Linked DNA regions of Homo sapiens. The protein of the gene in region 2 interacts with the protein of the main gene of each other region in a biochemical or structural test. Each region holds a gene or a part of one and is shown on either strand. Other genes may lie near its edges.

Region 1 (3,500 bases), on a different chromosome or scaffold from region 2:
GTGGACTGAATGATAACCTTTTCTTTCTTCATATAGGCTGATCAGCTGACCGAAGAACAGATTGCTGGTAAGTTGACAACTCCAAGGAGTCCCCAGAAGGCCAGAACTAGGCACTGACTCAGTTTTGGTGACTCCTCTGTTCCTCCCCGCTACAGTCTGGGCAGTTTTCTAAGAATTTATTTAAATAAGAACAGTAAGCAGAAACACTGAGGTCAGATGTTATTCTTGCCAGTACTTTATAGATGAGGTGAAAGGAAGTAAAACTAAGGATGCCCACATGTTAAACTCTGGAGAATTTGACCATGTTTCACAATGTGCAAAGTTTGCGTATGATTAATTGTACTGAGCCTGCTACTCAGCGGTTTAGTTTACAATTCTTATGCCATGGGTCTTTCAGTAATCTGCCACGAAAGCTTGTGCTCGCTATCCTAAAATAAATGGAAATGGGTGAATATGAGTGTTAGGACCACTGTAGTAATTGGGAAGAAAGTTACATTAGTTAAACTCTGTTGCCCAGGCTGGTCTCTAACTCCTGGGCTCAAGCAATCCTCCTGCCTCAGCCTCCTGAGTAGCTGGGACTACAGGCATGTGCCACCACGTCTGGCAGATTTTAGCTTTTTAATATTCCTGGAGGACTTGTTTTGAGACTGTTTCTCGTTAGGAAACCAGGAATGCTTCTGAAATATTCTAAAAGTCATGTGGAGAGAGTTTACCTGGGAATGTACATTTCTAGTAACCATTTTATTTGTTATGAAACAAGGGATTCTTATGGCTTTAGAAATGTAACAGGAAGGGATTTGAAGGGGGCACATGGACCAATCTTGTCAGATTGGATTTAGTCCCTTGAACCTGGGAGGCAGGGGTTGTAGTGAGCTGAGATTGCACCACTGCACTCCAATCTCGGTGACAGAGCGAGACTCCATTGTTTAAAAAAAAAAAAAAAGATTGGATTTAGGACTAATTTAAGCATGTTCCAGCTTAGCCGCCTTGAAACCTTTGGGAATATTGTGGTGTGTGGCACTGTTTATTGGGAGCAGTGTTTGCTTTATGGGCTGCTGTATGAAGGCCAGTCCAACAGGACTATTGTGGTCATTATTTCAGTAGATAAAGACCAGACTTCTGATACGTTGCACAACTTGAATGGCTGGCTTTGGCAAGCCCCCGGCAAGTGTGTATTGTGACTGGGTTGGATAAAGACATTGATTCTAACGGGTCAACTTTTGTTTTCAGAATTCAAGGAAGCCTTCTCCCTATTTGATAAAGATGGCGATGGCACCATCACAACAAAGGAACTTGGAACTGTCATGAGGTCACTGGGTCAGAACCCAACAGAAGCTGAATTGCAGGATATGATCAATGAAGTGGATGCTGATGGTAAGAGCTTTAAAACCATGAATGAGGGCCATTGTTGTGTAATTCAAGTTCAGACATGTTACAGGATTGTCTTTCAGGTCCCCAGAGCAAAGCAAATGTGCAAAGATCCTTTCTGTGGTTGCCCCAGGGCCATTGACAATTAAAATAGAAGATGATGGGCCTTGCGTCCATCCTGCTTAGTGTCTAGAATGTTTTCTGCATGGGATCACTATTGTTTTCTTCCTGCTTGGTGCGACCTAGAGCTCAAATCTATTTTTTTTTTTTTTTTTGGAGACGGAGTCTCGCCCTGTCGCCCAGGCTGGAGTGGCACTGGCGCGATCTCGGCTCACTGCAACCTCTGCCTCTTGGGTTCCAGCGATTCTCCTGCGTCAGCCTTCTGAGTAGCTGGAATTACAGGCGTGTGTCGCCACGCCCAGTTAGTGTTTTGTATCTTTAGTAGAGATGGGGTTTCACCATGTTGGCCAGGCTGGTCTCAAACTCCTGACCTCGTGATCCGCCCTCCCCGGCCTCCCAAAGTGCTGGGATTACAGGCGTGAACCACTGCTCCTGGCCGAGCTCAAAGCTTTTATCAACTGGCCCATGAGTCTGCACTGAGTCTTGAGGGGGGAGGTGAAATTAAATAGCCATAGAAAGTGCTTTTTAACAAACTTACTGTGTTTAAAGAGGAGGAGGAACCCCCAGATGAAGTAGGTGACGAGCACTCTTAGAAGTTACCATAAAAGTGAGTACAGTGTGAGCTGTAGATGTGTTTGCTGCAGAGGAGCATGTGAGGTTTGGAGGCGGATGTGTGGTGACTCCAGGGGATAGATTTGCAGAACCTAACGGAAAGGGAAGCTGTAAGGTGCAGGGCCAGAGGGAACCAGCAGTAACCCTGATAGCGGTCTGTCATCTGTTCCTCTCGACTCTACAGCAGCGGACAACAGAACTTTGATTGCTGATTTCCATCAGTAAGCAGGCTTTGAAGCACACTTCCCCACCCCTAAAAAAAAACCACGTATTTTGGTAAATCCTATATATATTCTAATGTACTGTATGACAGTATAGAACATGATTTTTAAAAGATGAGTTGGGAGGAGAAAAGGATAAAAGAAAAAATAAAAGAAGCATTAAGAATAAACAATTCGGATCTAGATTTTACTTTCTAGATGATTGACTCGAGGGTGGTGTAGTAAAATCGCTTGTCTGGTCACAAACATTTGGCAGCAGAGCTTTTGATTAGGTTCTTTGACAAAGCCTTCAGCACGTTAGAGTGGTTTTCACTAATAGTGTTTTGGAAAGAAAAGGTTGTCCATAGTTCTCTAGTTTGCTAAGATGATCAGCTACCCAGGAACGTGGAGTAACTTCCTCTTGTTTGTGGGAGCCCCGGGAATCTGTGCCTGGGGAGGGGAGAAGTCTGTTAGGCTCTTGGATTGTGTGGAAGAAGGAGAAGTTGTGCCAGGCTACAGAATCCTGTGTTTGCACTGAGAAAACAGGATGGTACCTGACCTTCTCTGCATGGCTGTGAGATAGCTTAAAATAATTTCTTTTGTTTTTGATGAATATGAACAATATCTTAAAATTTTTGAGGCTAAAAAAGTCTTGAAGGGATCCCTGAGGTATTTTCTTTGAAAGGTACTGGTGAAAATGAGTAACTTAACCTAAGGGTTTTTCTTTCTAATTTTATTTCCATTTAGTTCAATGACACTGTTAGTCTGGAGTGCTTGTCTTTGGGGGTATTCATCTCTTAGTTTTAAAGAGGAGTTGTTTGGAGTACTGGCCGTAGAACAGATTGTTCTGACAGTTCCCTAAGTGTTACTAGTCTGAGCTGTGAGAATGCTCCTGAGCTTTTCCCTTAATGGGAAATAAAGATACTGAGTTGGAAGAAAACAGGTGGCTAACCATCATAGCGTGGCCAAGAAATGATCCTGGAGAAGACTTGGTAAGACTTCATGGCCCATGCATGGCATAACAGAATCAATGTTCCTCTCTCATAATCTTTTCTCCTCTGAAACACTTTATACACTTAACCTGCAGCTCAGTTCTAGGCCTTTTTTGTGTTACTGCTGTCACTAACCAAGGCAGAGTGAGACCTGAGTGATTTCCCTAACTCAGGGATGGCAGTCGGGGGCGCTTTCTTCCCTCGGAGT
Region 2 (3,500 bases):
TCTCTTTTATCTTCAGCGTGCCTACAAATACAGTGTTATCACCGTCCATGTGTGCCATGATGGAAAAATGGTTGGGCATTTTTCCCGTGGGTGTCCCGGTAAAGTATTTGGACTCAATTCTGGTGTTTGATTAGTGCTTTTTAAAGTAACAGAATCGTCCCTATTTGAGAGGAATACCATAAATCTATTTGTAGTGACCTTTCCTTGAAATCACATTTTTTTTAGTTCGTTCTTTCACTAATGGAAATGGGGGAGAAGCTATGGGGGACAGTAGAAAGAATGGTAAAAGAAGCAGAGATGTGCTTGGTCTGTTTTTAACCGTTTGAGACCATTAATCATTTTCTCTGGGTTTAAGATGGAGGCTTAAAAGTGGCAGAAGTCTTGTAAGGGTTTAGCTGCTATTCAGTGCTGGTAGAATTCTCTTCCCTCCTAAGCCTGTGCACTTTTTAAAATGCACTTTTAAATAGGCTTAATTTGAAGAATGTGTCCATCTCTCTCTCTCTCTCTTTTTTTTTTTTAAAAGATGTACCCTTAAGTAAAAAACAGCTGATTGTCTGGCCCCCATAAGTAACAGTTATTCTGTTTTTTCTTTAAGACATCTTTCTTATTACCTTATCGCATTCATAAGGATTTGGGTTGCCGTATAGAAAAAAAGAAATTAAAGTTCTATGGGTTTCTAAAATATGTATGAGTAAATTTTAGGTGAGAATTTGCATCTTTGATTTAATTATACGTGAAGGTGATGACTTAGTTTCTGAAAGTCAAGAGGGTAGTCTTTACAAGCCAAAAAAGGCATGCTTCCATAAAATTATACTATTCTTAAAGGCCTTCACAGCTAGGGTCCTATATTAGATGCAATAGATGTAACACTGACATACATAGTCTCCTTAAAGTCTGGGATCCAATTTTATTGCTGAATTTACTTTTGAAACTAAATGTCAGGGTTTGGTAATGTTATTTTGGACAATAAGACATAGTTAGATTATAAAATGGCGTATACTCCCAGATTTATTGGGAAGGTGGGCAAAGATCCCCCAGTTTCCAAAAGTTATGATTATGGTCATCTAAGCCACAGGATCTGTTTTCTTATGTAGTTGAGAAGCTAACATAGTACTCCATTAAAAGTGGAGGTTGCCACACTGCGTGACCAAACACTGAGTTCAGCTGCCCTGTCTAGATATTCTGGATTACTACAGCAGCCTTCTAGCCTATGGTTGGAACCCATCTGATACTTTTCCCATTCTTGCTTAGAACAATGGTGATATTTCTCTGCTTAAAATCCTCTTGTGGCTCTTTTTTGCCCATTAATAAAATTCAAACTCCATTTATCCTTAATCTCATATACAAAACCTTCAAGATGTGCTCCTTACCTAACTCTCTTTTTTCCCCTTTATCTTTCATATTTTTCATTTTTTTTCTTACCTAACCCTTTAGCCTTATCTCTCTTCTTGGATGATCTTTTGTTCTACCAATACCCAGCTTCTGGAATGCTAGTGTTTGTTTACTCAGTCCTCCATTTCCTCTTCCTGGAATTCTAGCCTCTCTTCCTTCCCCTAATCTAGTATACTCCTACTGGTCCTTCAGAACTCAGTTTAGGTTATAATTCTCCAAAAAATTACAATTAGGTTCTCTCTCTGGATCCCATCCCTCAAAAAACAAAAAACAAAAAACCTTTAAGACTGGGCTGATTGCTTCTCTTATGTGCTGTCATAATATCTGTTACAGCTCTTAACTACACTGGAGAGAGTACTTTCATTAGCCTATTGTAAATTTTGTTGACAGCAGTCCACAGTAACCTCATAACTACACACACACACACACACACACACACACACACACACATTCTTTCTCTCTCTTAAAGGCCTTCTTCGTAGGCCTTTATCAGTCAAGTGCCCAAACTTTCTCAATTCATGGCACCCTTATTATCGCAGTAATTTTTTTCACAGCATCCCTAGGTCAAAAGAAACACCTAACAGTTTAATTTTTTTGTTTTTTGTTTTTTGAGACGGAGTCTCGCTCTTTCACCCGTGCTGGAGTGCAGTGGCGCGATTTCGGCTCACTGCCGCCTCCACCTCCCAGGTTCAAGCAATTCTCCTGCCTCAGCCTCCCGAGTAGCTGGGATTACAGGCACGCGGCACCATGCCTGGCTAATTTTTTGTATTTTTAGTAGAGACGGGGTTTCACCATGCTGGCCAGGCTGGTCTCGAACTCCTGACCTCGTGAGCCATGTGCCTCAGCCTCCCAAAGTGCTGGGATTACAGGCGTCAGCAACCATGCCTGGCCAGTTTAATTTATTAAGTAATTAGGTCTGAACAACTTAATAAGTATGTATCTCCTAACAAGTCAGTAGCTGTGTGAAAAGATAAAATACATAAACTAAAATCAGTAACTTTCATTCTTAACTGCTATCGTGTATGTACCATAGTTTTCTCGACTAATGTCCTGTTTGAACATTTAAGTAATATCTAATATTTTGCAATTACAAATGATGTTACAGTGAAAAACTTTGTGTACATGTATCTTTGTATTGTTGGAGAGATACATCTTCAGGATAAATGCATATGTAGAGTTGTTAGGTACTGTCAAACTCCTCATCCTGTGGGGTTATACTATTTTGCATTCCTACCAGCAGTGTATGAGAGTAGAGTGCTTATTTCCTCACAGCCTCACCAGCAGTGTTTTGTCAGCTTTTGAATTTGTGCTGATCTAATAGGTAAGAAATTGTATCTCAGTGTATTTTCCATTTGTACTTCTATTACAAGTGAATTGAACATGTTTTCATATGTTTAAGGGTCATTTTAATATTTATTTTTATTGTTCATATTATTTGCTCACTTTCTTTTCTTTTCTTTTTCCTTTTTGAGATGGAGTTTCGCTCTGTCGCCCAGGCTGGAGTGCAGTGGCACGATCTCTGCTCACTGCAACCTCTGCCTCCCAGGTTCAAGCGATTCTCCTGCCTCAGCCTCCTGAGTAGCTGGGATTACAGGTGCACGCCACCACGCCTAGCACGTTTTTGTATGTGTGTATGTATTTATTTATTTATTTTGAGATGGGGTCTCACTCTGCCAGGCTGGAGTACAGTGGCGCCATCTCAGCTCACTGCAACCTCTGCCTCCTAGGTTCAAGCGATTTTCCTGCCTCAGCCTCCCGAGTAGCTGGGACTACAGGCGCGTGCCACCACGCCTGGCTAATTTTTTGTACTTTTAGTAGAGATGGGGTTTCACCGTGTTAGCCAGGATGGTCTCGATCTCCTGACCTCGTGATCCACCTGCCTCGGCCTCCAAAAGTGTTGGGATTACAGGCATGAGCCACCGTGCCTGACCCTAATTTTGTATTTTTAGTAGAGATGGGGTTTCACCATGTTGGTCAGGCTGGTCTCAAACTCCTGACCTCGTGATCCGTCCACCTCAGCCTCCCCAAGTGCTAGGATTACAGGCGTGAGCCACCATGCCGAGCTTTCTTTTACTTTTTTTCTTTTTTTTGAGACAGAGTCTTGCTGG

What was found. Proteins that work in one complex are often made in the same cells at the same time.
Region 1: the proteins of RALA (region 2) and CALM1 form a complex in vitro, tested with the Homo sapiens proteins (2 studies listed by BioGRID).

Annotation. Positions count from the first base shown.
Region 1 is NC_000014.9:90,400,029-90,403,528, forward strand, and holds part of CALM1 (calmodulin-1), read left to right. Parts: intron 1-36; coding exon 37-67; intron 68-1,230; coding exon 1,231-1,374; intron 1,375-3,500. UniProt on the Homo sapiens protein: Calmodulin acts as part of a calcium signal transduction pathway by mediating the control of a large number of enzymes, ion channels, aquaporins and other proteins through calcium-binding. Calcium-binding is required for the activation of calmodulin.
Region 2 is NC_000007.14:39,626,572-39,630,071, forward strand, and holds part of RALA (ras-related protein Ral-A precursor), read left to right. Parts: intron 1-3,500. UniProt on the Homo sapiens protein: Multifunctional GTPase involved in a variety of cellular processes including gene expression, cell migration, cell proliferation, oncogenic transformation and membrane trafficking.